7 linked regions of the Homo sapiens genome follow. The protein of the gene in region 4 purifies or fractionates together with the protein of the main gene of each other region. This does not show direct contact. Each region holds a gene or a part of one and is shown on either strand. Other genes may lie near its edges.

Region 1 (4,684 bases), on a different chromosome or scaffold from region 4:
CTTTTAGTTTCCCTGCCTCCTGCCTGGAACCTGGAAGACCCAGAGAAGGGTGGGGAGTAAAGAACAGACCAGCCTTCTCCGCACTGCAGTTTGTTGAGGCATTGATCTGGCCAAAGCTGGATGTATGGAGGCAGAAAGTGTTCATTCATTTTTTAAATTTTTCATTTCAGAATTATTGCTTGTCTGCTATGGACCTAACACTGTTCTAAACATTGGGGCTGGTAATCCTCCATTATCTGTGGGAGATACATTCCAAGATCCACAGTGGATGCTTGAAACTGAGGATAGTATAAAACTCTATGTATACTATGTTTTTTCCTACACATACATACATACTATGATAAAGTTTCATTTATAAATTAGGTACAGTAAGGGATTAACAACAATGAATAATAATAAAATAGAACAATTATAAAAATAGACTGTAATAAAAGGTGAATATGGTCTCTCTCTCTCTCTCCAAATATCTTATTGTTCTGGCCTCACCTATTTTCAGACTGTGGTAGACCCTGGGTAACTAAAAACACTTAAAGCCGGCAGGGCGCGGTGGCTCACGCCTGTAATCCCAGCACTTTGGGAAACCGAGGCAGGCGGATCACCTGAGGTCAGGAGTTCTAGACCAGCCTGGCCAACATAGTGAAACCCTGTCTCTACAAAAAATACAAAAATTAGCTGGGCATGATGGTGCGCGCCTGTAATCCCAGCTACTCAGGAGGCTGAGGCAGGAGAATCGCTTGAACCCGGGAGGCGGAGGTTGCAGTGAGCCGAGACTGCGCCACTGCACTCCAGCCTGGGTGACATTGCGAGGCTCTATCTCAAAACAACAACAACAAAAAGTCAAAAAGTGTGGTGGACAGAAGAAATAGGAGAGCAGGTAAGGAAATGGTGGGGTGAGGAGCAGATGAGAACAGGTATTAAGTAGGATGGTCAGAAAGGGCCTCAGGGAGAAAGTGAGAGCCCAGCAAACACTGAGGGAGGTGAGGAAGTGAGCCAAGCAGCCAACCGAGGGAAGAGCTTTCTGGGCAGAAGGAATGGCTGGGGCAGACTCTGAGCCTGGAGGTGGAAAGGTGTCTGGCGATTTCTAGGAGGAGCAAGGGTTTTGGGATTTGGCTGTGGTTGGATGTTAGGTTTTAATTATAAAAGGATCTGCGTTTTTCACAACTTGAAAGTGAGCTACAGTTAAAATGAGACTTGTTCTTATACCTGAAAGTGACCAGAAAATTAGGTTCTGGTCTTTAAGAGATGGAAGAGGGAAATGTGAAGGGGCGTATTCCTTTCCCCTGCCCCGACCGCTCGCGGTTGGAGAGCCCAGCCACATGCCGCCCCGGCTCGGAGTGACAGCCCAACCAGGCCTCTGCCTTCTCGGCCGCGCCTCTCCCGCTGCCGTCCGGATTTCGATGGGTGGTACAGTACGTTAGGCACGCCCCTCCCTTTCTCCCGGCCTGGTCTCCTGTTCCAGGCGACAGCCCAATGAGGGCTGCCTTTTTTTCTTCGGACCGGTTCCAGTCTAGGTTCTCGTCCACTACGATCGCCCAGTGAGGCCCCGCCCCTCCCACCGCAGTTCCGCCCCTCCCGGAGCTACCGCCCAGTGAGGCCCCGCCTCTCCCGCCGCGGCCCCGCCCCCCTGCGTGTGACCGCATCTAGGCCCCGCCGCGTCCGCCACGCCCAGCGCTCGGCGGCGCCCGCCCCACTGGCCTGGCCCGCCCCCCGCACCGAGCACTCTTTCGCCCGGCCTCCGGTTCTCGCCGGCTCTCGGACCCGCCTCCGAAGACGTGGAGCGCTGCGGCGGCTGGTGAGTCGGGGAGGGCACCTCGGACCCCCCAGCTGTCCGCAGCAGAGCCCGGCCCCTTGCAGCCACAGAGCCCCGGCCGCTGCAGGCTCCAGGAGCTCCGCCTGGTCGCCGCCCTGCGTTCCCGGGCCGCCTCCCGGTGCCAGCACCCCTGGGGATGGGAAGTGGGACCAGGATGGGCGCGGGGGCTGTGGGGGCAGGGACGAGTGAAGGTGTTGCGGGGAGCGGCGGTCGCAGGGGAGGGGAGAGGTTTGTGGAGGGGATTATGGGTCTGGGGCGAGGGTTTGAGTCCTGAGAGAAAGGCGGTGAGGCGGAAATTTGGGGCTGGTGAAGTCAGGATGGAGGATGTTGGGGGCCTCAGCGCTTTGGGGAAGGAGGCAGTGAGTGGGGTGGTCGGCGGAGCGGAGTGAAGGGTGGTTTTTAGAAGGGTCAGCTCGCGGGTCCCGGGGTTCTTGCTTCCCGGGCAGTCCGGGGATCAGGGCGGACTAGGCTGTCTCCAAGCAGGTTTGGCCGGAGCGGGCTTGCAGGATAATGCTCACATCGAGGTGACTGAGTTTCCAGGCTTTTGACTGGGACATACTGTACAGTTTAAATAATAGATACCTGTCTGGCTAGTGCCTGGGACACCTGAGAAACGTGGATGGAATGGGGTTCTCCCCTATAGGCAGCGTCTGATTTTGTGGGTGCCTTCACAGCACCAGCATTGGTGTGCGCTGCCTTCTGTAAAACCTTATATTCCAGCAGGACGGTGTATGGAGATCCCAGACTTAAAAAGTGCAGCTGAGGTTTATTCAGACTCAAGACACAGTTGTATCATATTGCCTTAAATCCTGCGGAGTTTAAATCTAATCCTGTGGGGTTTAAAGCGGTTAAATCCACTTTGTAGTGTCTACTTTTAATTTAAAGTCATACAAATCTAGAGGACTAGATGTTTTCTAAGGGCCCATTCTGCATGATAAACAGTTTAAAATTCGCTATGGAAAGTAAATCATCTGTTCTGAACAGCTGTTGCTGAAAGAATCGTAGAGTTGCAGATGAATGAAATTTGAAAGATCTAAAATAATGGAAGGGCATAGAAAAGTCTTGATAAATTGAAGTGTGTAAATGCACTTAAACCCACTGAAACTTTTTTCTTTTTGTTTTTTTTGAGACGGAGTCTTGCTCTGTCGCTCAGGCTGGAGTGCAGTGGCACAATGTCTGCTCACTGCAACCTCCGCCTCTCGGGTTCAAGCGATTCTCCCGAGTAGCTGGGATTATAGGCGCCTGCCACCATGCCCGGCTAATTTTTGTGTTTTTAGTAGAGATGGGGTTCCACCATGTTGGCCAGGCTGGTCTTGAACTCCTGACCTCAGGTAATCCTCCCACCTCGGCCTCCCAAAGTGCTGGGATTACAGACGTGAGCCACTGTGCTGGCCAACTTTTTTCATTGTAGACAACTTGGAAGACAGAGAAAATTATAAGGATGAAAATTAAAATCTGTAGTTTTGCCACATGTAATAACATTTTGATGCATTTCTTCCTAATTTTTGTATTTTTGTGTATATGAATGTACACAAAATTAGGGTAGTATTGTTACCTAATTGGGGTAATATTGTTATATTACTTCATACTTTTGCTTTTTCTTTCCACCTTACATTTTCTCACTTAGCATTTTTGTGGATCAAATTCTTCTTAAACATCTTTGAAAATGCTTGTATAATCATTCATCATGTGGATTCATTCTTTTTTTAAATATTAGAGTTTTAGTTATGTGCCTAGTACTGTGCTTGGAGGTGAAAAATCAGTGTTCCTCAAATGGATATATTTGTCATGGCTTGCATGAGAGCTGTACTAAGCCTTTTTCTCATCTGTCAGTTAAATTGTCTCTAGCCTTCTGTTTTTATAAGCAGTAAACCTTTGTTTTAATGGTTAAAAGCTCACAATAAATCTCATGTCATGTGTGAATCCAAAACTGTTATTTTTAATGTGTATGAGTTTTTGTGTGTATGTGTTAGGAAATTACGGAATTTTGGGTGGAAGAGGATTTTTTTTTTTTTTTTTTTTGGACAAGGTCTCACTCTGTTGCCCAAACTGCAGTGCGTGCAGTGGTGCAGTCACAGCTCACTGCAGCCTTGACCTCTGGGGTCAGGTGATCCTCCCATCTCAGCCTCCTGGGTAGCTGGGACTACAGGCGAGAGCTTCACCGTATCCAGCTAATTTTTTTTTTCTTTTTTTTTGTATTTATTGTAGAGACAGGGTTTCGCCATGTTGCCCAGGCTGGTCTTGAACTCCTGAGCTCAATAGATCCACCCCCCATGGACTCCCAAAGTGCTGGGATTACAAGCCTCAGCTACTGTGCCCAGCCCCTGGAAGAGGCTCTTTTTAAAAAGTTTCTTGTTTTGAAATAATTTTAGATTTACAAAAAGTTGCAAAAATAGTACAAATTTCCTTATGCCCTTCACCTAGCTTCCCCAGATGTGAACATCTTAGATGACGATGGTGCAATTGTTGAAACCAGAAAATTGACATTGATACAATTCTATTAGTGTAATCTACAGACCTTATTCAAATTTCACTAATTGTCCCACTAATATTTAGGATCCAGTCTGAGATCCTACACTGTATTTAGTCGTCATATGTCCTTAGCCTCTTTTAACCTGAGCATCCTCCTAAACAGGATGACCTGGTGCAGACCTGTAAAGTGAAGCAGGCCTGCTAGAAAGCACACACCTCCCCTGAATTCATATCCAAAACCTATCCCTTAGAAGGGGATATTTATCTTCCTTTTCTATATGAATAGACTACTGTTTGATTAAGATGTATAACCATAGCTGGGCACGGTGGCTCACGCCTGTAATCCCAGCACTTTGGGAGGCCGAGGCAGGCGGATCACGAGGTCAGGAGATCAAGACCATC
Region 2 (4,060 bases), on a different chromosome or scaffold from region 4:
CTGGGATTATAAGCACACATCACTATACCCAGCTAATTTCTTAATTTTTTTAAAGACGAGGTCTTGATATATTGCCCATGCTGGTCTTGAACTCCTGGACTCAAGCAGTCTTATTGCCTTGGCCTCCCAAATTGTTGGAATTATAGGCATGAGCCACCGTGCCCAGCTTTAGTATGACATTCTTTATTCTTTTAGAAAGCTTTGAGATATTGATGCATCCTTATAGAAATTACTTTCATTTATTTATTTACTTACTTAAAACAGCTTGATAAAGTTGGAAAAAGCAGGACCCTAAATAATAAATATATTTGCCATCAGCCTTTTATAGGAAAACTCAGAAATAATAAGTGGAAATATTTAGGATGTCACTCATCAGACTTTTTTTTTGAATATGTAAATGTGTTTTTTTGAAAATTTAAACACGCAAAGTAAAAATTAAAAGTTTTGGTTAAGTTGTGAATTTCAGAAATTTATCTTGGTTATGGTGTCCTGAAGTTAAAAAGAATAGAGCATTAGTACATTAGTACATAAACGTTCTGTTATTCTCTGCCTAAGGGCAAGATCCAACTTTGAACCAGGTCCTGGATTTCCTCTCATCTTAAATCGGAGCCTTTTTCATTTGTAGTATAAATAAATTAGCCTTTTGATGCTGTGATTTTATTTGTATATGTTATATATGAGATTTATATCTCTCTTTGTATGCAGGCATTTCACTAGATTTTGTTTGGCCATCTATTTTTAGTGTTTCCCTAGCAGCATGTTTGCTTTACCTGCCTTCATCTAGGTTTCTACATCATCAGGGGTGGAAATATTAGTTGGCTTAATTAAGCTTGGGAGTTGTACCTTACTTGCTCTGTTGAGTGTCAGTTCTACCTTCTTTTGAAGCAGGCAAAAGCAGTTCATGGCACAAATGCCAGAAATAGCATGCAAACCACTTTGTAGTGGTATGCAAACTAATTTCTGCTGTGTCCTTTTCTTAATGCTTGTGAGGGTTACTGTTTACTTAAGAGTTAATATTTGGCTTATGAAACTAGTATCAGATGAGAAATTCCAGCATCCCTCCCCACCCCAGAGAAAGATGTGGTCATTGGGGACTGCTCTGAAGTCTGCCAGCCCTCTATCCTAAAAGTTGGTAGATCAGTTATTATATCTTGATATGTACCCCTAATTCATATGAGGGGCCAAGAGAGATTAGTTACTCCTGATTTCATCTGTTAGAAGATAAAGGGAGTGTGGTTTGTATCTATATTAGAGTAATGGGAATGAAGGGTAGGGATGGATGACAGAGATATTTTACTCCTAGGAAAAATCAGCAGGACTTGGACAGTGACTAGATACAGAGAATTAAGGGAATAGTTGAATCAGACATGACTGCAAGATGTCATTTGGGTCAGTGAAGGTGCCATTGATTGTGGTTGAAGGAGTGAGCCGATTTAGGGGCTGGCTGAAGGGAATATATAGGTCAGACTGTCATGATGTGAGGCTCATATAGCTATGCATGGAGAGAGGTGTTAAATCAAGCACCAGGATTCAAAGTGAGCTCTTGAAGGCAGAGACCTCAATTTGTCCTTTATTCATCTTGAACAGACTCTGGGACGTACCTACTGTCAATTGAATGAAAATGCTGGCTTCTTCCTTCTAAGTGGTTCTCATCTCAGGATTGTTTTGCCCCCGGGGGACATTTGGCAATGTTTAGAGAAATGCTGGGTTGTCACAACTCAAAGTATGCTACTGGCATCCAGTGTGTAGAGACCAGGGATGCTGGTAAGCATGCTACAATCCGTAAGACAGCATCTTCTACCTCCCCCCGCCACCCTCAAAATTTTTTAGCCCCAGATGTCAATGGTGCCAAGATTGAGAAACACTGTTCTAACAAACGGCAAGGAAGTTGACTCCTCTAAGCCTTGGTTTCCTCACTTGTAAAGAGATTATGACTACTTCAGGTTTGTTAGAATTAGACCAGGCAGGGTGTGTACAAGTGCCTGGCATGAAAGAGCCTCTCAGCAAATCCTAATTTCCCTTACCTTACTTGATGAATAGATTTAGGGGAGTTACTTTTGGTCTTTTAACTGCTAATTTCAAGGCTTCACGTTTTTTTTTTTTGTTTTTTTTTTTTTTTTTTTTTTTTTCTGAGAGGTGAGTGGGATGCCTAGGAAACATAGAGTAGCTTTTATAATCTTAATGCTTTTCTCATGGTTTTATCAAATTATGATTTTGATTATACTTTGGTTTGGGTTTGTACTATTTCAGGATTCAGTATTTAGTGTTCACCTAGCAGTAGACAATGAAGTTAAACCCTTAGTGTAGATCAATGAAGTTAAGCCCTTAAATTTTACTTTTTAGCCTGTAAATACATTTTATGTATTATTTATTGCTCACAGAACTGTTATTGTTTGGAAGCAATTTTACTATTCTTTGAAATCAAGACCAAAATGTACTGAATTTTATTTCTCATGGAAAATGCTAGACCTCCTATGTCTATTGCCTTTTTCCTTTTTATCCATTTATTCTAACTAGACCCCCCCCGAAGTCAGAACTCTTCCTTAGATTTCCTTTTTAGGGTCTTCATTAGGTGGCTTTCTTTTGCTTGTCGGGTGTCTTTTTACTTTATTTTGTAAGGTGTTGAATATTCCCTTTATTTTGTAAGGTGTTGAATGTTTCAGTGGTGTTAGGGACAGGACCACCGATATTTTCATCTCTAATACCAATCCCTTAGTGATCTATTCCAGTCATAGCCTCAGTGTTTAAAGTCTCCTTACATGTACATAGTTGTGTGGCATTCTCATTTTTAGGGAGTCACTGGAATTCTTTGCTGCTATTTCTTTCCTTTTAGGAAAAAAACCGGTTTACTCTTACTATACATTATTTTCTCCATCTATAGAATGGAATTACTGTAGGTAAAAGTCCTTGAGTTCGGTAAACTATGTATTGGACTTACTAATGTACGTTTTATTAATTGCAGGTGGAATTTAGAAATAACCTGCCTGTTTTTCATCTTAAACTAAGATTATTTAAATATTCCATTCATTAATTAGTTGGTTAGAAAAATTAGCTTTTGAGGAACACCACTTAAACATGGAAAATAATAACAGAGTACATTTTGTGACAGCAAATAAATTATCGGTTAACTTAACCCTATAGGATTCAAAGTTGGTAGCTTTAAATGATATTAAATTGTATTTGACTGTCAACTGCTTTTAAAGGCTTACGTGGCTCCCCATTGTACCTGTAGTTATTTAGGTCTGGAAGCACAGGGTGTTAAGAATGCCACCATAATGTCTTTTCATAAGGGTTTGGTTTGTCATAGCCTGTAAAATTAGGTTCACCAGTTAGCTGCTTTATGAAATGAATGTCATTGGTCATGGTGGGGGAGGTATTAGGAGAAGGTATAAAGGAATCTAAAAAAACTTTCTTTCTTTCTCTCCCTCCCTCCCTTCTTTCCTTCTGCCCCTTCCTCCCCCCTTTCCTTTCCTTTTTCCTCTTTCCCCTTTCCCATTTCCCCTTTCCCCTTTCCTTTCCTTTCCTTTCCTTTCCTTTCCTTTCCATCTTCTGTATTGCTAGTAAAATAATTGTTGCTCACTGAAGGCTTTAAAAAACACTGGTTGCATGCTTAATATAGGATGGCAACAAAATGGACGGGTTTAAAAAATATGTAGATGGTATGATACCCCTTTCCTCCATCCTTGTACCAAATTTCTTTCAAACCTAGAATAATTTATACAAACAGATGTATCAGTAGATGGAGTATTATGCCCACTTTTTAATTTAATGATCAAAAAATGCCAAATTCTTCCCAGAGTGGCAGTATAATTCAGATGTAGTTAACTGTTGGATGCAAATTCAATTATGGTAGAAAGATTTACTTTACTTTGAGAGGTTTTTCTAAAATCTTCTAAAATTATGTTGATTTTTAAAATTTGAAATAACTTTAGACTTACATAAAAGGTATAAAAATAGTACAAAGAGGTCCTGGATATCTTTTGCCCAGTTACTCCTAATGTTAACATCTTATATAACCATAGTATAATTATTAAAACCAGGACATTCACATTTATAAACT
Region 3 (4,060 bases), on a different chromosome or scaffold from region 4:
CTAATTAGTAAGCAAAGAAATGCACATTTAAGGAAGACAGTGCACATTTAAGGAAGACAGTAACCTTTTATCTATTAGAGAAAAACACACATTCTGTCTTTAACACACACATAAATCTTATATTGGCAGGGATTTTCTTTATTCAGCAATTATTTATTGGTTGTCTGCTTTGTGGTACACATAAATGCTGGGGATAAACACTTAATAAAATATACTTCCTTCTCTTGAATATCTTGCACTTTAAGTGGGAAGGTAAGTCAACAGAGTAGAGGTGATATATCCAAGTGATAGACTGTTTCATTGCCAGTAGCAGTATAAAATCTTAGAAATCTTTTGGAAAGCAATTTGGATGTAAGTATTGCAGAGCCTTAAAAATGTTTATTTGCTTTGACCTAAAATTCCTTTTTTATTTATTGCAAGAAAATTATTCTAAATATGGGAGAACAAAACCTTCATGCTTAAAAGTGGTTATTTTATCTTATAATGTTGAAAGTTGGAAACAGTCTTGTTAGCCATAAAGGAATGATTACATGAACCAGTAAGCTGGCTCAGTAGAATATTTTATTTAGCCCACTAAAAAAGTCAAAGTTGGCCAGGTGCGGTGGCTCACGCCTGTAATCCCAGCACTTTGGGAGGCCAAGGCAGGTGGATCATGAGTTCAGGAGATCGAGACCATCCTGGCTAACATGGTGAAACCCTGTCTCTACTAAAAATACAAAAAATTAGCTGTGCGTGGTGGCGGACACCTGTAGTCCCAGCTACTCAGGAGGCTGAAGCAGGAGAATGGTGTGAACCTGGGAGGTGGAGCTTGCAGTGAGCCGAGATCAGGCCACTGTACTCCAGCCTAGGCGACAGAGCGAGACTCCATCTCAAAAAAAAAAAAAAAAAAAGTCAGAGTTATGAGTTCTCTGATTCAGTGTTAAATGGAAGAATGTCTAACATAAAATTGGATATACAGTCTTCCCTCAGCATACTCGGGTTATTCCATGACCCCATCCTCCAGCATATACCCAAATCCATGCAGGCATGCTCAGGCCCCACAGTTGACCTGTGGAACCAGGGTATATAAAAAGTCAGTCCTCCTTATGAACTTTTGCGTTGGAGAATACTTGTTTTTGTTTGTTTGTTTGTTTTGAGATGGAGTCTCGCTCTGTTGCCAGGCTGGAGTGCAGTGGCGCAATCTCAGCTCACTGCAACCTCTGCCTCCCGGGTTCAAGTGATTCTCCTGCCTCCGCCTCCCGAGTAGCTGGGATTACAGGTGCGCACCACCACACCCAGCTAATTTTTATATTTTTAGTAGAGACGGGGTTTCACCATGTTGGCCTCAATTTCCTGACCTTGTGATCTGCCTGCCTCGGCCTCCCAAAGTGCTGGGATTACAGGCATGAGCCACCGTGCTCAGCCAGAATACTGTATTTTTGATCTGCATTTGGTTGAAAAAAATCTGCATATAATGGGCCTGCATACTTCAAGCCCTTGATATTCAAGGGTTGTTGTACAGGATAACATTTGATATTTCTGGGGTTGTGTTCCAGAAAAAATATAAACTTTTCCATGGGTAGAAGGGAGAAAGGGGAGCAGCTGTCAGGGAGGAAAATTACTACAACACTTTATCATTAGTCGTTTTTAAGTAGTGGAATGTTAAGTGATTTTACTTTCTAATTGTTTCATTTCATATTTCCTTATTTTCTTTAAGGAGCATGAATTACTCTTTAAAGGAGTAATGAGGAGGGAACTTTCATAAATATGTAACATTATGTTCTCACTTCCTCCACTAGAGGGAGAAACAATTTCATGTAATTGTGCTTTGATGTGATTTTTAGAACTAGTTAGGAATGGAGGATTTTATTCTTCTTTCTCCAATTGTGATAAGTTTTTTGCTTATTTCCATGTTTGGTTAGAAGTTCTTTGATAACAGTTCTAAATATTAAAACCATTATATAAATAATAAGTAGAGGAATTTTGCAATTTCTTTTTCCTTTTTCCCATAAAAACTTGGTTGGCTTTAACTGATAATGAAACATTAAAGAATTTGTAGTTATTAGGGCATTTACTGATTTTTCAAATGTGTTCTGAGTATAAAAATATATGCCCTTTGAGAAAATTTTTGAAAATCGTGAAAAACATTGAGGGAAATAAAAACCACCTCTGCATGGTACACACACCTGGATATTTTGTAATTTGCCCTTTTATCTTAAAAAGATATCAAAATATTTTGTCACATCATTGAATGCTCTTCCACATCAGAGAATCTTACTTAGCTTATGGACCATCTCCCAAGAAAAACGACCATTCATTAACTCTGGTTAAGACCCATATCATTGTTTTTAGTGGCTCCATAGAGCATTTCATCATAGGGATGTGCTATTTTTTTTTTTTTTTTTACCAATCACAATTTGGAGGCTTTTAGTTGTAAACAGTCCTGTGACATTATGTTGGTAGATAAATCTTTGTCCACATGTTTGGTGATTTCCTTAAGGTAAATTCCCAGACATTGAATTGGTAGTATTTACTAAAGATTACTCCAGAAAGTGGCACCAATTTCCTTTTCTAATGTAAGTGTATGGTAGAGTTCCTTCCCTCAACACTCTGGAGGAATTGGAGAATCTCCATCATGTCTAATTCCTTTTGTATTTCAATCTTTACCAGAAAGAGCCCTGTCCCTTTTAATTGGTTACTTGACTTTTAATTTGCTGTTACATAATTCAGGTGTGTTAAGTGTGTTAATAGGGCTTCCTATTATAAGGGATCCACAAATAAGAATAGAATTTCTTTTTCATAGCCTTAATTTTTATTTGACTCAATAAATATATGTGTATGCCTTCTATGGTGAGCTGTCATAAATTTATTTTGGAAAGAGTGGAAATAAATCTGTAATGTGCGAATCTGATGTTTTTGGTAATTAATTTCCCTAGCATGGTATGATATTATACAAGCAGTAGGCTATAATCCTGATATCTGAGTTCACTTCTGGCTCTGTCCCTAAACACTTGGTGAGCTCAACAGCTGGAAGAGTTTTGGGGATCATATTGGGAATTAATTATAATATTTACTTTATTACTTAATACTAGGAAAAACTGGAGGAGTGCCTAAAGCAGTTAAAGGAAGAAAGAGTGATAAGGCTTAAGGTTGATAAACGAGTCAGTGAGGTAAATAAAAGTTTTCTTACCTTTTGAGAGTTTTTTGTTTTGGTTTTGGTTTAACTTTAAGTCATACATACACACACTTTATAAACTTTAAAATGAGAAAATATAGTGTATTGCAAATGGTCACAGTATGTTAATGTTTGTATTTACTTATATTTGGTGACCGTGTGATCTGTATTCCAAAAAGCATGTTTTTTAAAAATGTAAAAATTGTAGTTTGTTTTCTTTTCCTCTGTTTTTATATGACTGGAGCTTATTTTCTGTTCATGATGCATCAATTCAAGAATGCATTTATTAGGCTTATACTGTATATACAATTGCGTAAAAGATGGGGATGAGACTATCTACTGAAGGGGAATTAGGAAAATGAATAAATAAGGTAAAAGATAATGGAAAACCGGTAAGAATGCAATGAAAGATAAAAATCTATACCATGAGGACTAAATTAGGTGAATGTGCATAAGAGCAGGGCATAAACTAGAAAGTTCTACATAACTATAATTTATTATTACAAAGCAAGTTTAAGGAGGAATTTTTGAAAGTATATGCATTGGTTTGAAAGACAGTTAATCATTCAATAAAGGTTGAGCACCTGATTGTATAAGGCAAAAGGTGCTTTGTGAACACAGTGGCCTTTCTGAGAAATACTAGAGTTAGACTTATGTGTAGTATTAGATAAATAGATTTGGTGTACAGGAGAGTACATATTTTCAAGAAGCAAAGGGGCAATATTGGTAATTGTACAGTTAGTAAATTGGGTATGATTTAGGACTTTTAAATTTATATATTAAGTATTTTACTGGCAAAAATTAGTCCTTAACAGCCAAATTGTAAAATGCTTACTCTTTATTTCATTGTCTAATTTAAGGGAAACCTTAAACAGCTAATTTTTAAATATAGAATGATCCAGGTAT
Region 4 (4,060 bases):
ATTGTTGGGGAGTTTTTTTGCTGTTAAGATGTTTGAGTTCCTTGTATATTCTGGCTATTAATCCCCTGTCAGATGAATAGTTTGCAAATATTGTCTACCCTTCTGTGGGTTGTCTTTTCATTCTTTTTTTTTTTTTTTGGAGGCAGAGTCTCCTTCTGTCACCCAGGCTAGAGTGAAGTGGCATGATCTCAGCTCACTGCAACCTCCACCTCCTGGATTCAAGCAATCCTCGTCCCTCAGCCTCCCAAGCAGCTGGGACTACAGGTGTGTGCCACCAGGCCCAGTTAATTTTTCGTATTTTCAGTAAGGATGGCATCTCACCATGTTGCCCAGGCTGGTCTCAAACGCCTTAGCTCAGGTAATCCACCCACCTTGGCATCCCGAAGTGCTGGGATTATAGCGTGACACACTACATCTGGCCTCACTCTGTTGATATGTTTCCTTTGCTGCGCAGAATCTGTTTAGCTTAATATAATCCCATGTTTATTTCTGCTTTTGTTGTGTGTGCTCTTCCAGTCTTATCCATAAAAATCTTTCCTCAGACAAATGTCCTAAAGTGTTTCCCCTATGTTTTCTTCTAGTAGTTTTATAGTTTTAGGTCTTACATTTAAGTCTTTGATCCATTTTTAGTTGATTGTTGTATAGGGTGAAAGGTGGGGATTTAGTTTCATTGTTTGTATTGATATCCAGTTTTCAAAGTGCCATTTATTGAAGAGACTGAACTTTCTCCAATGAATGTCTTTGGCACCTTTGCCAAAAATCAGTTGGGTGTAGACATGTGGATTAATTTCAGGGTTCTCTCTTCTGTTCCATTGGTCAGTGTGTCTGTTTTTATGCCAGTACCATGCTGTTTTGATTACTGTTGTGTTGTCATATATTTTGAGGTCTGTTAGTGTGATGCCTCCAGCTTTGTTCTTTTTTTCAGGATGGCTTTGGCTATTCATGATCTTTTGTGGTTCCATACAAATTTTAGGATTTTTTTCTTCTATTTCTGTGAAGAATGTCATTGGTATTTTGATAGGAATCCACTCTGTAGATTGCTTTGGGTCATATATAAATAATTCTTTTTTTTTTTTTTTTTTTTTGAGACAGAGTTGCTCTATTGCCCAGGCTGGAGTGCAGTGGTGCAGTCTCAGCTCACTGCAACCTCCTCCTCCCAGGTTCAAGCAATTCTCCTGCCTCAGCTTCCTGAGTAGCTGGGATTACAGGTGCCTGCCACCATGCCCAGCTAATTTTTGTAGTTTTAGTAGAGACGGGGTTTTGCCATGTTGGCCAGGCTGGTCTCGAACTCCTGACCTCAGGTGATCCACCCGCTTTGGCCTCCCAAAGTGCTGGGATTACAGGTGTGAGCCACCGCGCCCAGCCATAAAGAATTCTTAAACTTGAAGTTGGTTGCCATTAAGAGCTTGAAGACCATGGACTCATTGATTATTATAGATATCATTAATTTTTAGTTAGGCTAAAAATACACATGACTGTTTCAAAGTATATGTAATTACAGAGGCTTTGAAAAAGACAGTATTCATGTGCTAGAGCCCAATCCAGAAGACTTAAGTTAAACCAATGTCAATGTCAATGTCTCCTTAGAAGTGTTAAGACAGGTTGGCTTGTTCTGATGTTTATTGCAGTTTGAATGGAGAGGCACAGTGAGGTTAGGGGTAACTCAGTTAACTGGTGTCCAGATGGGGCCCTACAGGCTTGTATAATAGTACCTTATTTAGACACCATATTCTAGAGTATCATCATGTACTTGGAAATTCAATTGCTAATATACTAAGTGGTGGTCAACTTTGAGGAAATTACTCCTGCTTAACAAACTCCCAGAAGACAGAATGCCCTCATTTTGATTTATAGTGACATTGTGTCTGTGTAGGTACATCCACATGGAACACCAAATCATAATCAGAATATTGCTTACTGAGTAGAAAATGGCGGGGAAGAAGAGTTGACTAGGTGATCGCGGTGGCCAGGGACATCAAGCAGAGACGCTTATGGTATCTCAAACACTTACTCGGTGGAAGGTGCTGGATGCACCGCCAATGTTTGCTTTTCAGCCTCCGTTTTCTAGGCTTCATTTCTGATCAACATTCCTTATGGTCAATTCAGTCTTTTTTTGCCTAAGTTGAGTCCTTCAAGGTCAGCATTAATACTTGGTCTGGTGGCCATTTGGTGTCCTTCAATATGCTTCTAAATATTCTGCTCTGGTTCTTCATGTCTGTTTTTCCCATTTAACTTTCTTTTTGGGAGGCCCCATGTACAATACCAAGATTTGTATATACATATATATGCATAAAAGTATCCAAATACTTTATACTGCTTGTACATGATTTAAATATTCAACAATCAGCTGGGTGTGGTGGCTCATGCCTATAATCCCAGCATTTTGGGAGGTCAAGGCGGGTGGATCCCTTGAGGTCAGGAGTTTGAGCCCAGCCTGGCCAACATGGCAAAACCCCATCTCTACTAAAAATACAAAAATTAGCCGGGTGTGATGGTGGGCATCTGTAATCCCAGCTACTCGGGAGGCTGAGGCAGGAGAATCACTTGAACCCGGGAGGCCGAGATTTCAGTGAGCCAAGATCACACAACTACACTGCAGCCTGGGCAACAGAGTGAGACTCTGTCTCAAAAAAAAAAAAAAAAAAAAGGAAAAAGAAAAAACATTAGCTGGCTGTGGTGGCACATGCCTGTAGTCCCAGCTACTTGGGAGGCTGACGTAGGAGAATTGCAGAGGTTGCAGTGAGCTGAGATCATGCCACTGCACTCTAGCCTGGATGACAGAGCAAGACTCCATCTCAATAAATAAATAAATAAATAAATATTCAACAACTTAAGAAATGGGGTAAGTAGTTCTTATCTGTTGTTTGCTTAAGAGTATGAGAATCATCGATCCTCATGCTATTGCTGATCTGAATTGCTTTTAACTTTTTCTTTCAGATTAAGAATGACCCAAAATAAATTAAAGCTTTGTTCCAAAGCCAATGTGTATACTGAAGTGCCTGATGGAGGATGGGGCTGGGCGGTAGCTGTTTCATTTTTCTTCGTTGAAGTCTTCACCTACGGCATCATCAAGACATTTGGTGTCTTCTTTAATGACTTAATGGACAGTTTTAATGAATCCAATAGCAGGATCTCATGGATAATCTCAATCTGTGTGTTTGTCTTAACATTTTCAGGTTAGTACATCTTTCGGCCTAACCATGACGTAAGTATAGGGCCCTTTTAATTTGGCTACCTTGGTAATGGTAGTCGATGTGTTTGTGATGCTTTCATTCCCTTATACGCCTGTTGGTCCTTCCTAGCCCTGACTAACAGGGTTTTCAGAGCATTGAGGATTGGCAAGAAACAAAAGGCACTGAAGAAAAAAAGCCTTATTTGCCAGCCATGACAGCCTTCAGTTTAACACACATGTATTAAACATCTGCTGTCTGCACACTCTTAGGATTCTGTAGATTCCCTTAAGGAGTGCAGTCAACCTCCTTTTGTGAGGATGTGAGGATATAGTCACTGTCTAAGAAGCAACATCAAAAAGTTGCTGATGGCCGGGCACAGTGGCTCACACCTGTAAGCACTTTGAGAGGTCAAGGTGGGTGGATCAGTTGAGGTCAGGAGTTCAAGACCAGGCTGGCCAACATGGCGAAACCCCATCTCTACTGAAAATAGAAAAATTAGCCAGGCACAGTGTTTTGCACTTGTAATCCTCAGTACTTGGGAGGCTGAGGCACGAGAATTGCTTGAACCCAGGAGGCGGAGGTTGCAGTGAGCTGAGATCACACCACTGCACTCCAGCCTGGGCAACAGAGCGAGACACCATCTCAAAAAAGAAAAAAGTTGCGGCCGGGCGCGGTGGCTCACGCCTGTAATCCCAGCACTTTGGAAAGCCGAGGCAGGTGGATCACGAGGTCAGGAATTCGAGACCAGCCTGACCAACATAGTGAAACCCCCTCTCTACTAAAAATACAAAAAATTAACTGGGCATGGTGGTATGTGCCTGTAATCCCAGCACTCAGGAGGCTGAGGTAGGAGAATCGTGTGAACCTGGGAGGTGGAGGTTGCAGTA
Region 5 (4,060 bases), on a different chromosome or scaffold from region 4:
CAAAGAGTAGTTGCTGCCTCCCAGCCCTACAGTGGGGAGCACTTGCTGAACCATGCTGGTGCCACAGAGATCCCAGGGGAGCACCACACTGGTGGACTAAGTGTTGCCTCTAAAACAGCCATCTGTAAATGCATGTTCAGAACGAAAAGCAAAAAGCTTGACAAGTTATTTCATTTTGGCTGAAGGCCATGATTAAAGGTGTACCTGCTAGGTTACCCACCTGTCGACCTCCTCTTTGCTCATGGCAGCAAATGTGAAACACTCTGTCACTCCATTGATGGCAAGCAGGAGAACATAGAGACAGTAGGAACGCAGCAAAACAGGACCTACAAGGAAACAACTCACTGAGACTCCAGAGCCCAATCAGAAGGCCCACATGTACCCTCAGTGCTGCTGAGTACCCAGAGAACCAGAACCAGACTATGAGGTCTGCTGGTATCAGCAATGGGCAGACTGCATGCTAGAGCCCAGGGTCTTAATAATCTAGAAGGATTCCCAACATTCTATGGCATTGACTAAATAATCAGCAAAAAACAAAATGACAGGCTGGGCACGGTGGCTCACACCTGTAATCCTAGCACTTTGGGAGGCCCAAGGCCAGCAGACTGCTAGAGCCCAGAGGTTAGAGACCAGCCTGGGCAACATGATGAAACCCCGTGTCTACCAAAAATACAAAAGTTAGCTGTGTGTGGTGGGCATGCCTGTAGTCCCAGCTACTCGGGAGGTTGAGGTGGGAGGATCACCTGAGTCTGGGGAGGTCAGAGCTGCAGTGAGCCATGATAGTGCCACTGCACTCCAGCCTGGGTGACAGAACAAGACCTTATCACACACACAAAAAAGAACAATTATGAATAAATGTACAGATCTCTTGCTGGACAACTAAAAGCTTATCTGGCTAGCAAGCAAGTCTGTTCCCTTTTTTCATCAGCATGAATAGGCCTGCTGGTTTGGACTCAAAGTCAGTAGTGACCCTGCATGTTAAGGGAATCTCAGTTGAGCAGGTCCTGAAGAAAAGACCTTTAACAAAAGCCAGGGGCCCAGGACCAGCAGAAAATTACACAAATCCAAAGTGAGAACCAGTGCCCATAATAGTATTTTCTTCTAAAACAAAGTAATGCAGTTCTATAGCTAACAAGCTTCGGAAAAATCTTCTAAGCAGAGAACAGGAGGCTTACAAATGGGATTGATTCCCCCCTTTTAAGAGGGCCATAATCAAGCACCTAATAAAATAAACAAACACCTAACCTACGACCCAGCAATTGCACCCCTAGGTATATATCCAACAGAAATGAACACACATGTTCACAAAAACACTTACACAAAAGCATCTGTAGCAGTTTGATTCATAATAGCCAAAACTGACCATCAACAGAAGAAAGAATAAACAAAACGTGGGCCATCCACACAAAGGAATACTTAGCAAGAAAAGATAATAAAAATCACTGATCCATGCGAAACCATGGAAGAATCTCAAAAACTTTATATTGAAGGAAATATGCCAAATGCAAGAGCGCACATGCTGCATTTCATTGATATAAAATTACTTTTAAAAGAAATACTGATCCATGGTGATAGAAATCAGATTTCTTCTGATTTCTCTTTGTCTCTGAGGTGGAGTGGGGTAGTTGACTAGAAAGGGTCCCAAAAGAACTTTCTGGGGAAATGGAGATATTCTATGTCTGAATCTGTTTGGTAGTTACATGGGATTTTTTGTACATATTTGTCAAAACTTACCAAACTGTACTCTTAAGAGAACAGCATTTTACTTTATGTAAATTATACCTCAACAAAGGGAGAAAAAAAACTCCCAAAAAAAACACATAACCACTGAAAGAAAAGGAGGGGGACTGAAGTTCCGGAGTCTCAGAATCTGGAACTCATTCAGGGTTTATGAAAGCTGTTTAATACAAAAGATCTCCATGCTGTGGGACCCCTAAACAGTTTTATGGCAGTCACAAAATTATAAAAGGAATACTAACAGGGCAGCCCCGACGCTCAACAAAAAACCGTTTTCCACGGCCCTGTCTCAGATTCCATGTTTATCACCTCACATTGCATTTTGCTTGTCAAGCCGCTGCAGGAAGTAGCCTGGCCCCCACCCCAGCTGACGGTGACTCCAGGAAGGGAGGCGGGGACCAGGCTCTGCACCCGGGAGGCTCAAGGCTATGCTCAAGTGTGCCTCCTGCTTCTCCCCAACCTCCTCTCCCTGGCAGAAGCAGAGAAGAGTGGGGGGCCTCCTTACGTGGTAACTGAACGCTAATGGCACAGGAGGGCCCATCAGTAGGTGAACAGTGGGCTGTCGTGAGGCATGGAGAACACAAACTCTGGCACCAATCAGTGACTCACGTAAAGGGTTTTGTGTCCATTTGGGGAATTCAAGAATGGAACCAACCTTCGATTGTAGACTGAATTGAGGGGTGTTTTAAGTTGAACTGTCCCCCCAAAATAGATATGTTAATGTCCTGACCAGTGGTACCTGAGAATCTGTCCTTATTTGGAAACAGGGTGTTCATGAAGAAAACTGAGTTAAAATGAGGTCATTAGGGCAGGCCCTGATCCTATATGACAGGTGTCCTTATAAAAAGGGGAAACTTGGTCAGGTGCAGTGGCTCATGCTTGTAATCTCAGCACTTTGGGAGGCTGAAGGGGGGCAGATCATCTGAGGTCAGGAGTTTGAGACCAGCCTGGCCAACATGGCGAAACCCCGTCTCTACTAAATATACAAAAACTTAGTCGGGTGTGGTAGGGTGTGCCTGTAATCTCAGCTACTCGGGAGGCTGAGGCGGGAGTCTCTTGAACCCGGGAGGTGGAGGCTGCAGTGAGCCGAGATCACACCACTGTACTCCAGCCTGGGTGATAGAGTGAGACTTCATCTCACTAAAAAAAAAAAAAAGTGGGGGAAACTTGCATTGAGGCAGACACGTGCAGGGAGATGATGACGTGAAGAGCGCAAGGGGGATGATGACGTGAAGACAGAGAGAACACAGCCATGTGACCGCAGTACTGCAGCTGCAAGTCAAGGAACGCCAGGATGCCAGCAACCATTAGCAACTAGAAGAGGTAGGAAGGGGCCTCTCCTCGAGCCTTCAGAGAGAACACGGCCCTGGCCATAGCTTCATTGTGCACTTCTGGCCTCCAGAACTGACGGACAATATGTTCTGTTGTTTAAAGCCACGCAGTCTGTGGTACTTTGTCATGGCAGCCCTAGTTCATTAAGACAAGGGGATAGAGAAGGAAAAAAGTAAAAGGCAGAGGGACAAGAGAGAAGCACCTAAGAGAGAAATGTAAGAAATCTTGGGGAAATTCTGTGAATGTGTGGGTTTTGCTTAAGGATAGAAAAGCTAGGTGTTGTTCTGTGAGTTACCAAGAAAAAAGAAAAGAAAAGAAAAAGCAAAGCAAAGCTAGGTGTGAGAAGGATTTCTAAGAAAAGCCTCTAGAACACTTACAAAGACCCTAATTAAATGCAGGGCTAATCCCAAACAACGGAAGAGAAGCCACACCCCTACACAAAAGCCTGTCCGTGCTGTGTCCGAGTCCCACATCTGGAGATGGCCAGTACAGCTCACAGGTAAGTAGTCCACTTCCAGGGTGAAGACAAAGACAAGTACACAACTGGGGACAGCAGTGTTGCGAGTTCCACTTTCAAAACTAAGATGATGGGCTGAGTCATGATAATGATGGGACAGCCCCCTCCTTGAGGCAACGCCCTGTGATTGTGTGACATTAGAGGCTGCTCCTTGGTGATTGCTTTCTAAAGGGGAAGAGCTGCTACAGAATAGTCGAGTTCCCAATCTCTGCCCATAAACTTACTAATGCCTTCCTCATGAGGCCTCCCCACAGCTGCCAGATGGAAATACACTTCTCACAGCACAAGCCCCAGGGAGCTGCAAACCACTTCACTGGTTTCACAGCAGGTGTTTCTCCAAACTTAATGACCTTTGCTCTGGTATAGAAACCTGGCCCTTCCTCCCCTAACACCAAAAGTTTGGGCCCCATTGTAGTGGAGACTAAAACATGCTAGTGAACTTGTAAAATGGCATTTGACAAAGCCCTTTATATT
Region 6 (4,060 bases), on a different chromosome or scaffold from region 4:
AGGCAGTATTGTTGGTATAGTTATTTATCTCCAGTTGCATTCTAAATTTATGACAAATTGAGGGTGCAGCTTCAGGATTAGTGACACTAGAGGGTGCTGGCATGCAGCATTAGTAGGGTTAGTAAACCCCTTTGTGACACCAGGTTTCTTTATTTTTAAGAAGTATTTTCCCTGGTATAATAATTTCACAATTATACAACATCTCATAATTTTTAGAATAAAGGAATATTACAAAATTTCAGGTTATTACTACATTATAATAGTGTATATCTTAGATTAGAAAATAGCAGAGCCTTGTTAGAAATTACAACATTTTATGTGTGTCTAATTAGTATAGTTACTAGTAACTATATAAAACTTCTTTTATTTTAAAAAATTTGATAAATTGACTAAAAGATGGTATGTGTCATTTTTCTTTCCCTCTTGAGCTTTTCTGGGTTAACATCTCAGGGTGGGAACAAAATCAAATCTTTGGAAAATCATAGACTGCTTTTATGAACCTTAAATGATACTTTTACAATAAACTCAGATTTATATAACCTTTTTTGAGCAAACATTTCAAAAAACAATGCATTTCTTGGTTCCTTTATAATTTTACTGGATGCTCAATAAATAAATTGTTGAATGAAGTAAGGAATAGTCTTCTGAAGAGGCTGTCTCCTGTTTTTCAAGAAGATCCATAGAGTTTATCTCGTTCCTGAAACCTCAGGGTGGATAACAGAGCCTGGACTGCCCTTCAGTTTCATGCACATATTCAGCACGTTAGCCCAAGTTAACATATGTCCTAATCATACACAGCAATGCATATGTATGTACCTGTAGAATTTTAGAGCAGGAGGATATCTATGAAGAACCGGAATATGTAGATAAGAGGTTTCATGGAGGGGAAGGTACTTGTGTTGGAATATGAAGACTGGGTAGAATTTGCTAAGGGGAGTAGAAGTAGATCTATGTGAGAAGAAATTATAAGAAAAATACAGAGGTGGAAGTGAGTATGCTGTGCTTGTGGATTCTTGAAGAGGGATAAGGCTTATTGGAATATAGAATATAATGGAAAGAAAAGTTGACTAGATAAGGTGAGATGGCCATATTACAGGAAGTATAGAATATTGGAGAAAATAGTTTAGATTTGATATGAGAGAAATAGGGTGTACAACTGTAAATTTTAGAATAGAGGAGTGATATATGAACCTGCTTTGGAAAGATTTCCTTGATAGCTTTTTACAGGATAAATTGAAAGGAAGGGGAGAGACCAAAAAAAAAAAAGGCCAACCAGGAGGCCATTAGTGCTATCAAGGTATGAGGTGATGGCATGGGAATGAAGCAGAATGGATAGATACAAGTCATTTTGAAGAAAAATACATGCTTAATATTACCTATGAAGAATTAAGGAGAAGGAAGAGCCAGAGATAATTGTAAAATTTCAAAGCCACATGTTAGTACCATTAGCAGAAGTTAGAGAATCAGAAACAAGTGTTATATATGAGGTGGAAGATTATGAGTGTACTTTAGGGCAGTCTGAGTCTGCAATTCCAGAAACATTCAAGTGGAAATTATTGTAGTTAGCAAAAGCCTGAAACATGAGTGAGAAAGAAGACTAGCAATTTGGGGTGGGATGGGAGGTGGGGGCGAGGGTGTTATCATCATCATTGGAATGCTGGTTAAAAGTTCTGAGAGCCTAAAGAAGTCACAGCAGAGTACTAAGACTGGAGCTTTTGGAGAAGTTCACAAAGGATGGGAGGAGCCAGCATGGAAGATGAAAGAGGAGAAGCAGCGGTCAGTGAAGTAGGATGCTGTAGTGTCAGGAAAGGTCAGATGTGGCAGAGAGATCAAGGAGAGTGAGGCAGATAATTGGCTGCTGAATCGGTTTAGAAGTTCATTGCAGGCCTTTGAGAGAAATTTTGTGGGGCAAAAGTGAGATTGTATTGTGTTTTGGAGGAAGTGAGGGAAGAACTGGAACATGTCTTCTTTGAAAAGTATTGACATTGAAAGGATCGGGAGGTGAGAAGATGAAAAGAATGAGGGACAAAAGATGAAGCAAACACTTCAAAAGAGAATAATAGCAATAACAATAACTTTTAGGTTTTATTTAGTGTTTATGATGTGCCAGGCACTATACTATTTGCTTTACCTTTATTGTTTAAACTCTATGACAACCCCAGGGAGTAGACATCATTGTAGATAAGGACCTTTGGAGATTGCTGATGGCTGGTGAAAGGTGGAGGGGTTGGGATGCAAAATGAGAGGAGAAAAAACACCTCAAAACTGGATGTGGAAAGGTTGTGTCATAGAAGACAGGATTTGCTTCAAGGGAAGGCAGCAGAAAGGATGGCATTGGGGCCTTGAAGAGAGGAGAGAAATTTGGGGACTATCCCTAAAGATCTTTTGGGAATTAAAATGTAAATAAAGAAATAACTGGGCAGTGCCACAGACCTAGTTCAAATCAGATATGCTACATTTTGAGTAGTACCTTGTGATTATGAATCAGAATCTAGATGTAATATTGAAACAAATATGTGGATAAAATCAAAGCCAAGAGCTTCAAGAACATTGAGGAACTAAAGGATACCTCAATATGCTATGGAAAATGGATTTGGAAAGGGCTGAATTATGATGGTGACAGGGTGAGGATGAACTAATCTGGAGCAAGTGAAGCAAATCATTCAGGATGGTGACCTAAGTCCATGGCAGCCAGCTATAATAGTTTAGTCTTAGTATTTTAAGGAGGTTTTCAGATTGTTCAATTAGGGGGAAGGGAACTAACATTTACTGAGTATCTAAGGTGCCATACTTTATATATACATTATTAAGCCCTACAAATCACTTACAAGATAAGTATTAGCTCCTCCATTTTCCAGATGAGAAAACCGCGGTCACATAGTCAGAAACTGGCAATGTTTGACTCCAGAGCCCATGTTTTTTCCATGTAATGCTGAATAGCATAGGTTATATGGCCAAATTGTACTTTTTGTTTTTAACAATAAATTTGATTTTGAAAATTTATATAAATGATAGCATGTTTTCAACATATGGGTGCTTATTGTAAAGAAAGCCAATCCCCTTGGCATAATGAATACTCATCCTCAAAGTGTCTGAAATTTGGATTTTTGTCTAAAGGATTTAATTAAAGACTTTTTTTTTTCTTTGCATTAACATCCGGTTGTCCTCATGGAACCTATGAATTTTGTGGCTGATATTGCAGGTTGGTAACATTTTATTTTCTGTTATTTTAGATTCATTGGTTTTCAATTTTCAACTCCTTCATGATGGTGATCTTCTTGGTGGGCTTAGTTTCAATGATTTTAATGAGAACATTAAGAAAAGATTATGCTCGGTACAGTAAAGAGGAAGAAATGGATGATATGGTGAGTAAACATTTACATTATATTTGTAGAAACATTTTAACTGAGTGTTAAGTTTTAAATGTTGGGAGGTAGGTCATAATTTCTTACCGGAAGTCTTTGAGTTTCCACAATTCAGGATTTTTAGAGTTAAGAAAGATGTAAAATGCCCAGTGTGGTCTGTAACCATGCCCTGTAATCAAATAATATTAATTTTTTTTCAGGAAAACATAAGAACATTCACCCGAAGTGGGATAAATAAATAGTGTAACCTCTTGTTAGTTCAAGCCAAGTTTTGCCACCAAGTAAGAATATGTCTAATACTGTTAAATACTGCTTAAAATTCAGGGAATGGGTAGAAGGATTAATTTATGTTCAGTTTAGTGGGTTCAGAGGAAAGATTTGTTTTCTAAGTTCTTTTACTAAGTTAGAGAACAAAAAGTGTGTTACATAGAGTGCTAGCTAATGGATATTCGGTATAGGTATACTGTATCATTAAATAAATTTAGGAAATTTGTTTTAAGAGACAGGCTGGAGTGTAGTGGTGCGATCATAGCTCACTGTAACTTCAAACTCAAGAGCTCAAGTGATCGTGCCACCTCAGCCTCCTGAGTAGCTAGGAATACAGGAACAAGCCCCCACCCCTGGCTATTTTTTTATTTATTGTAGAGATAATTTCACTATGCTGCCCAGGCTGGTCTTGAGCTCCTGGCCTCAAA
Region 7 (4,060 bases), on a different chromosome or scaffold from region 4:
TAGGTAAACTTGTATCAAGGGGGTTTGTTGTACAGATTATTTCATCACCCAGGTAATTATTAAGCCTAGTACCCATTAGTTGTTTTTCCTGATCCTCTCACCCTCCGAAAGGCCCCAGCATGTATTGTTCCCCTCTATGTGTCCATGTGTTCTCTTCATTTAGCCCCCACTTATAAGTGAGAACATGTAGTATTTGATTTTCTGTACCTGTGTTAGTTTGCTAAAGAAAATGGCCTCCAGCTCCATCTGTATCCCTGCAAAGGACATGGAAATCATTCTTTTCCATGCAAAGAACCCCTTTTTTTGTATTTTAATATGGAAATAATTTCTTAGATTCAGCTTAATTGGAAAGCTATTATTTAAGGTCCTGCAGATGTGTTGGTGAAACACATCTGACTTATGGGATATATGATAATTCATTATTATAAACTTTTTTTTTGTAAGGCTTCCAGACAAGCTGCAGGAATTCCAGGGATTACTCCAACTGAAGAAAAGTGAGTAATTATTTTCTTGGAATTAAGTAGAGTTAATTCTTCATTATTGATATCAAGACTAAACCATATTTTTAGCCAATCATGGTAGCTGTTGCCAGCTACTGAGGAGGTTGAGGTGGAAGATCGCTTGAGGCCAGGAGTTTAATGCTTCAGTGAGCTATGATTGTGCCACTGCACTCCAGCCTAGGCGACAGAGCCAGACCCTGTTTCTAAAAAAAATAAATAAGTAAAAAGAAAACTAAGGTTATTTTGTGGTAGGACTAGGCAGACAGATGGAATAGAGTAGGTAGTTCAGAAGACAAACCAAAATGATAAACCATATTTTTAGATCACTCATCTTATTCAATTCAATTCCTTTGATTGCCCTAAATTTACCTTGGCATGTAACCTAAACTTTGTTAACAGAAAGGAGGGTCGTGTAAATCAAAACATTTCATTGCTTTCACTTCCCCTTGCCAGAGAAAGCTGAAAAGAGGATTAAGATAGAAGGAAAGAAGGAAAAGATTGCCATAGCTGATCTGATGATTTTCACCAGCCGATGATGTCCATTGTCATCTCAGAATTAGGTGCTGGGAAAGTGGGATAGCTTTCCAGTATCTAAGTCGGATGTTCCTATGGAGCTTTCTTATTTGGTTTGAAGTGTTAAGAATTCTTAAAATATCAGACAAATCCATATCTAAATATAACTATAGAAATATAGCAAGAAGGCAAATATAATTGAGTTTTGGATTTTGCAGTAATTTGAATTTCATGAACCTTTGTTCTCATTTATTGATACAGTTAATTCAGAGTCAACTGTTGTTTTTCTCATTTTTCCAAATTAAATTGATTATTTTGTCAAATGTTGCTCTTTTGCCAGAGATGGTAATCTTCCAGATATTGTGAATAGTGGAAGTTTGCATGAGTTCCTGGTTAATTTGCATGAGAGATATGGGCCTGTGGTCTCCTTCTGGTTTGGCAGGCGCCTCGTGGTTAGTTTGGGCACTGTTGATGTACTGAAGCAGCATATCAATCCCAATAAGACATGTAAGTTTAATTTTCTTTCTAATTACCTGATCCTTACCTTTTAAGAATGAATGTTTAGGCTGGGCACGGTGGCTCACACCTGTAATCCCAACACTTTGGGAGGCTGAGGCAGGTGGATCACATGAGGCCAGGAGTTCGAGACCAGCCTGGCCAACATGGTGAAACCCCTTCTCTACTAAAAATACAAACACTAGTCGGGTGTGGTGGCACACACCTGTAATCCCAGCTACTTGGGAAGCTGAGGCATGAGAATCTCTTGAACCCCGGGGGCGGAGGCTGCAGTGAGCCAAGATTGTGCCACTGTACTCCAGCCTGGGCGACAGAGCGAGACTGTCTCAAAAAAATAAAAAAAGAATTAATGTTTATAAATAAAAACTGTATATATATATTGTTCTTGGATAGGAATAGCCAACATTTATTGAATGCTTTGTACTATGTGCTAGGCACTGTGCTGATGTCTTATTGCCTAATTTAAGATAGTATTTTAAATAATTGTGTTTTTCCTTAATTTATAAGCATATATGATAAAATCTCAGTGTAAATTCCAACAGGATTTTTTTGGGACCCTGAAAAAATAGTTCCAAGGTATATCTGGAAGAGTAAAGAGTAAATGTACATGAGCAACCAGGAAACAATCCTAAAAAGAGTATTAATGGGCTGGGCATGGTGGCTCACACCTGTAATCTCAGCACTTTGGGAGGCCGAAGCAGGTGGATCATGAGGTCAGGAGATCGAGACCATCCTAGCCAACATGGTGAAACCCTGTCTTTACTAAAAATACAAAAATTAGCTGAGCGTGGTGAGGTGTGCCTGTAGTCCCAGCTACTCGGGAGGCTGAGGCAAGAGAATTGCTTGAACCTGGGAGGCAGAGGTTGCAGTGAGCTGAGATCGCACCACTGCACTCCAGCCTGGGCAACAGAGTAAGATTCCATCTCCAAAAAACACAGAATATTAATGAGGGAAATACTTGTACCATCAGTTAGTATAGAGTATTATAAAGCTAGATTAAAGAATCTTGTATTGGCCAGGCATAGTGGCTCACACCTGTAATCCCAACATTTTAGGAGGCCAAGGTGGGAGGATCACTTGAGCCCAGGAGTTCAAGACCAGTCTGGGCAACATAGTGAGACCCCATTGCTACAAAAAATACAAAAATTAGCCAGATGTGATACATGTGCCTGTAGACCTAGCTACTTGGGAGGCTGAGGTGGGAGGATTGCTTGAGTTCGGGAGGTTGAGGCTTCAGTGAGCCAAGGTTGCGCCACTCTACTCCAGCCAGGCAGCCAGGGGACAGGGCAAGAACCTGTCTCTTGAAAAAAAAGAATCTCCTGGCCGGGCGTGATGGCTCCTGCCTGGTGTCCCAGCACTTTGGGAGGCCAAGGCAGGCAGATCACATGAGGTCAGGATTTCGAGACCAGCCTGGCCAACATGGTAAAACCCTGTCGCTACTAAAAATACAAAAATTAGCCAGGCCTGGTGATGTGCGCCTGTAATCCCAGCTACTTGGGAGACTGAGGCAGGATAATCTCTTGAACCCGGGAGGCAGAGGTTGCAGTGAGCTGAGATCATACCACTGCGCTCCAGCCTGGGTGACAGAGGGAGACTCCATCTCAAAAAAAAAAGACTCTCATACTGTGGTCAAGCTAGGCAAACAGATGTAAAAGAGTAGAGAGTTCAGAAGACAAACCAAATATGTATGATAAAGATAGCATTTTATGACAAAAGGGAAAAGTAATAAATGTTTTGGGGAATATTGGTTAGCTATTTGTAAAAAATAAATCTCAATCCCTGCCTTATTCTATTCCCCCCGCCCCGCCCAGCTTTTGCCCAGGCTAGAGTGCAGCAGTGCTATCATAGCTCTCTGTATAACCTACAACTCCTGGGCTCAAGCAATCCTCCCACCTCAGCCTCCTGAGTAGGTGAGACTATAGGCATGCACCACCATGCCTGGCTAATTTATTTACTTTTTAGTGGAGATGAGGTCTTGCTACGTTGCCCAGGCTGGCCTCCAACTCCTAGACTCAAGCGATTCTCCCACCTCTGCCCTCCAAAATGCTGGGATTATAGGTGTGAGCCACTTCACCTGGCCTCTGCCTTATTTCTTATATAAAAATAAATTCTAGATGATTAAAATATCAGGTCATAAAGGTAATACAAGAAAACATGGTTAAATATTAAATTTTTTCTCTTTGGTTGGAGAGAATGTAGATAAACCTCTTACAATGGTACAAGATCTAGAAGCTATAAAACACAAGTTAGATAAATCTGTCTACATAAAAATGAAAAATTTTAGTACAATAACAAACATCTTGAATGGATGCGGTAGCACATAGCTGTAGTCCCAGCTACTCAGGAAGCCGAGGTGCGAAGATCGCTTGAACCCAAGAGTTGAAGACCAGTCTGGGAGACACATTGAGACTGTCTCTAAATTAAAAACAAAGTCAAAATCACCTTGAGAAAGGAAGAAAGAGAGATGGTAAAATGTTGGCCACACATTGCTACACCTGATGTGTAGTAATTGATTACCATATTTTTGTTAA

What was found.
Region 1: the proteins of SLC16A6 (region 4) and ANO10 purify together in Homo sapiens (affinity purification with mass spectrometry; one large-scale study listed by BioGRID and IntAct). This does not show direct contact.
Region 2: the proteins of SLC16A6 (region 4) and ATP2C1 purify together in Homo sapiens (affinity purification with mass spectrometry; one large-scale study listed by BioGRID and IntAct). This does not show direct contact.
Region 3: the proteins of SLC16A6 (region 4) and CEP78 purify together in Homo sapiens (affinity purification with mass spectrometry; one large-scale study listed by BioGRID and IntAct). This does not show direct contact.
Region 5: the proteins of SLC16A6 (region 4) and RFT1 purify together in Homo sapiens (affinity purification with mass spectrometry; one large-scale study listed by BioGRID and IntAct). This does not show direct contact.
Region 6: the proteins of SLC16A6 (region 4) and TM9SF3 purify together in Homo sapiens (affinity purification with mass spectrometry; one large-scale study listed by BioGRID and IntAct). This does not show direct contact.
Region 7: the proteins of SLC16A6 (region 4) and CYP20A1 purify together in Homo sapiens (affinity purification with mass spectrometry; one large-scale study listed by BioGRID and IntAct). This does not show direct contact.

What each region holds. Positions count from the first base shown.
Region 1 is NC_000003.12:43,619,017-43,623,700, reverse strand, and holds the start of ANO10 (anoctamin-10), read left to right. Parts: upstream 1-1,689; 5' UTR 1,690-1,792; exon of another isoform or gene 1,793-1,928; intron 1,929-4,684. UniProt on the Homo sapiens protein: Does not exhibit calcium-activated chloride channel (CaCC) activity. Can inhibit the activity of ANO1.
Region 2 is NC_000003.12:130,900,194-130,904,253, forward strand, and holds part of ATP2C1 (calcium-transporting ATPase type 2C member 1), read left to right. Parts: intron 1-4,060. UniProt on the Homo sapiens protein: ATP-driven pump that supplies the Golgi apparatus with Ca(2+) and Mn(2+) ions, both essential cofactors for processing and trafficking of newly synthesized proteins in the secretory pathway.
Region 3 is NC_000009.12:78,259,836-78,263,895, forward strand, and holds part of CEP78 (centrosomal protein of 78 kDa), read left to right. Parts: intron 1-3,071; coding exon 3,072-3,149; intron 3,150-4,060. UniProt on the Homo sapiens protein: Centriole wall protein that localizes to mature centrioles and regulates centriole and cilia biogenesis. Involved in centrosome duplication: required for efficient PLK4 centrosomal localization and PLK4-induced overduplication of centrioles.
Region 4 is NC_000017.11:68,277,205-68,281,264, reverse strand, and holds part of SLC16A6 (monocarboxylate transporter 7), read left to right. Parts: intron 1-152; exon of another isoform or gene 153-264; intron 265-338; exon of another isoform or gene 339-358; intron 359-2,937; coding exon of another isoform or gene 2,938-2,944; coding exon 2,945-3,176; intron 3,177-4,060. UniProt on the Homo sapiens protein: Monocarboxylate transporter selective for taurine. May associate with BSG/CD147 or EMB/GP70 ancillary proteins to mediate facilitative efflux or influx of taurine across the plasma membrane. The transport is pH- and sodium-independent.
Region 5 is NC_000003.12:53,099,161-53,103,220, forward strand, and holds part of RFT1 (man(5)GlcNAc(2)-PP-dolichol translocation protein RFT1), read right to left. Parts: coding exon of another isoform or gene 4,054-4,060; exon of another isoform or gene 4,035-4,053; intron 327-4,034; coding exon 221-326; intron 1-220.
Region 6 is NC_000010.11:96,552,233-96,556,292, reverse strand, and holds part of TM9SF3 (transmembrane 9 superfamily member 3 precursor), read left to right. Parts: intron 1-3,233; coding exon 3,234-3,365; intron 3,366-4,060.
Region 7 is NC_000002.12:203,245,402-203,249,461, forward strand, and holds part of CYP20A1 (cytochrome P450 20A1), read left to right. Parts: intron 1-444; coding exon 445-494; intron 495-1,353; coding exon 1,354-1,520; intron 1,521-4,060.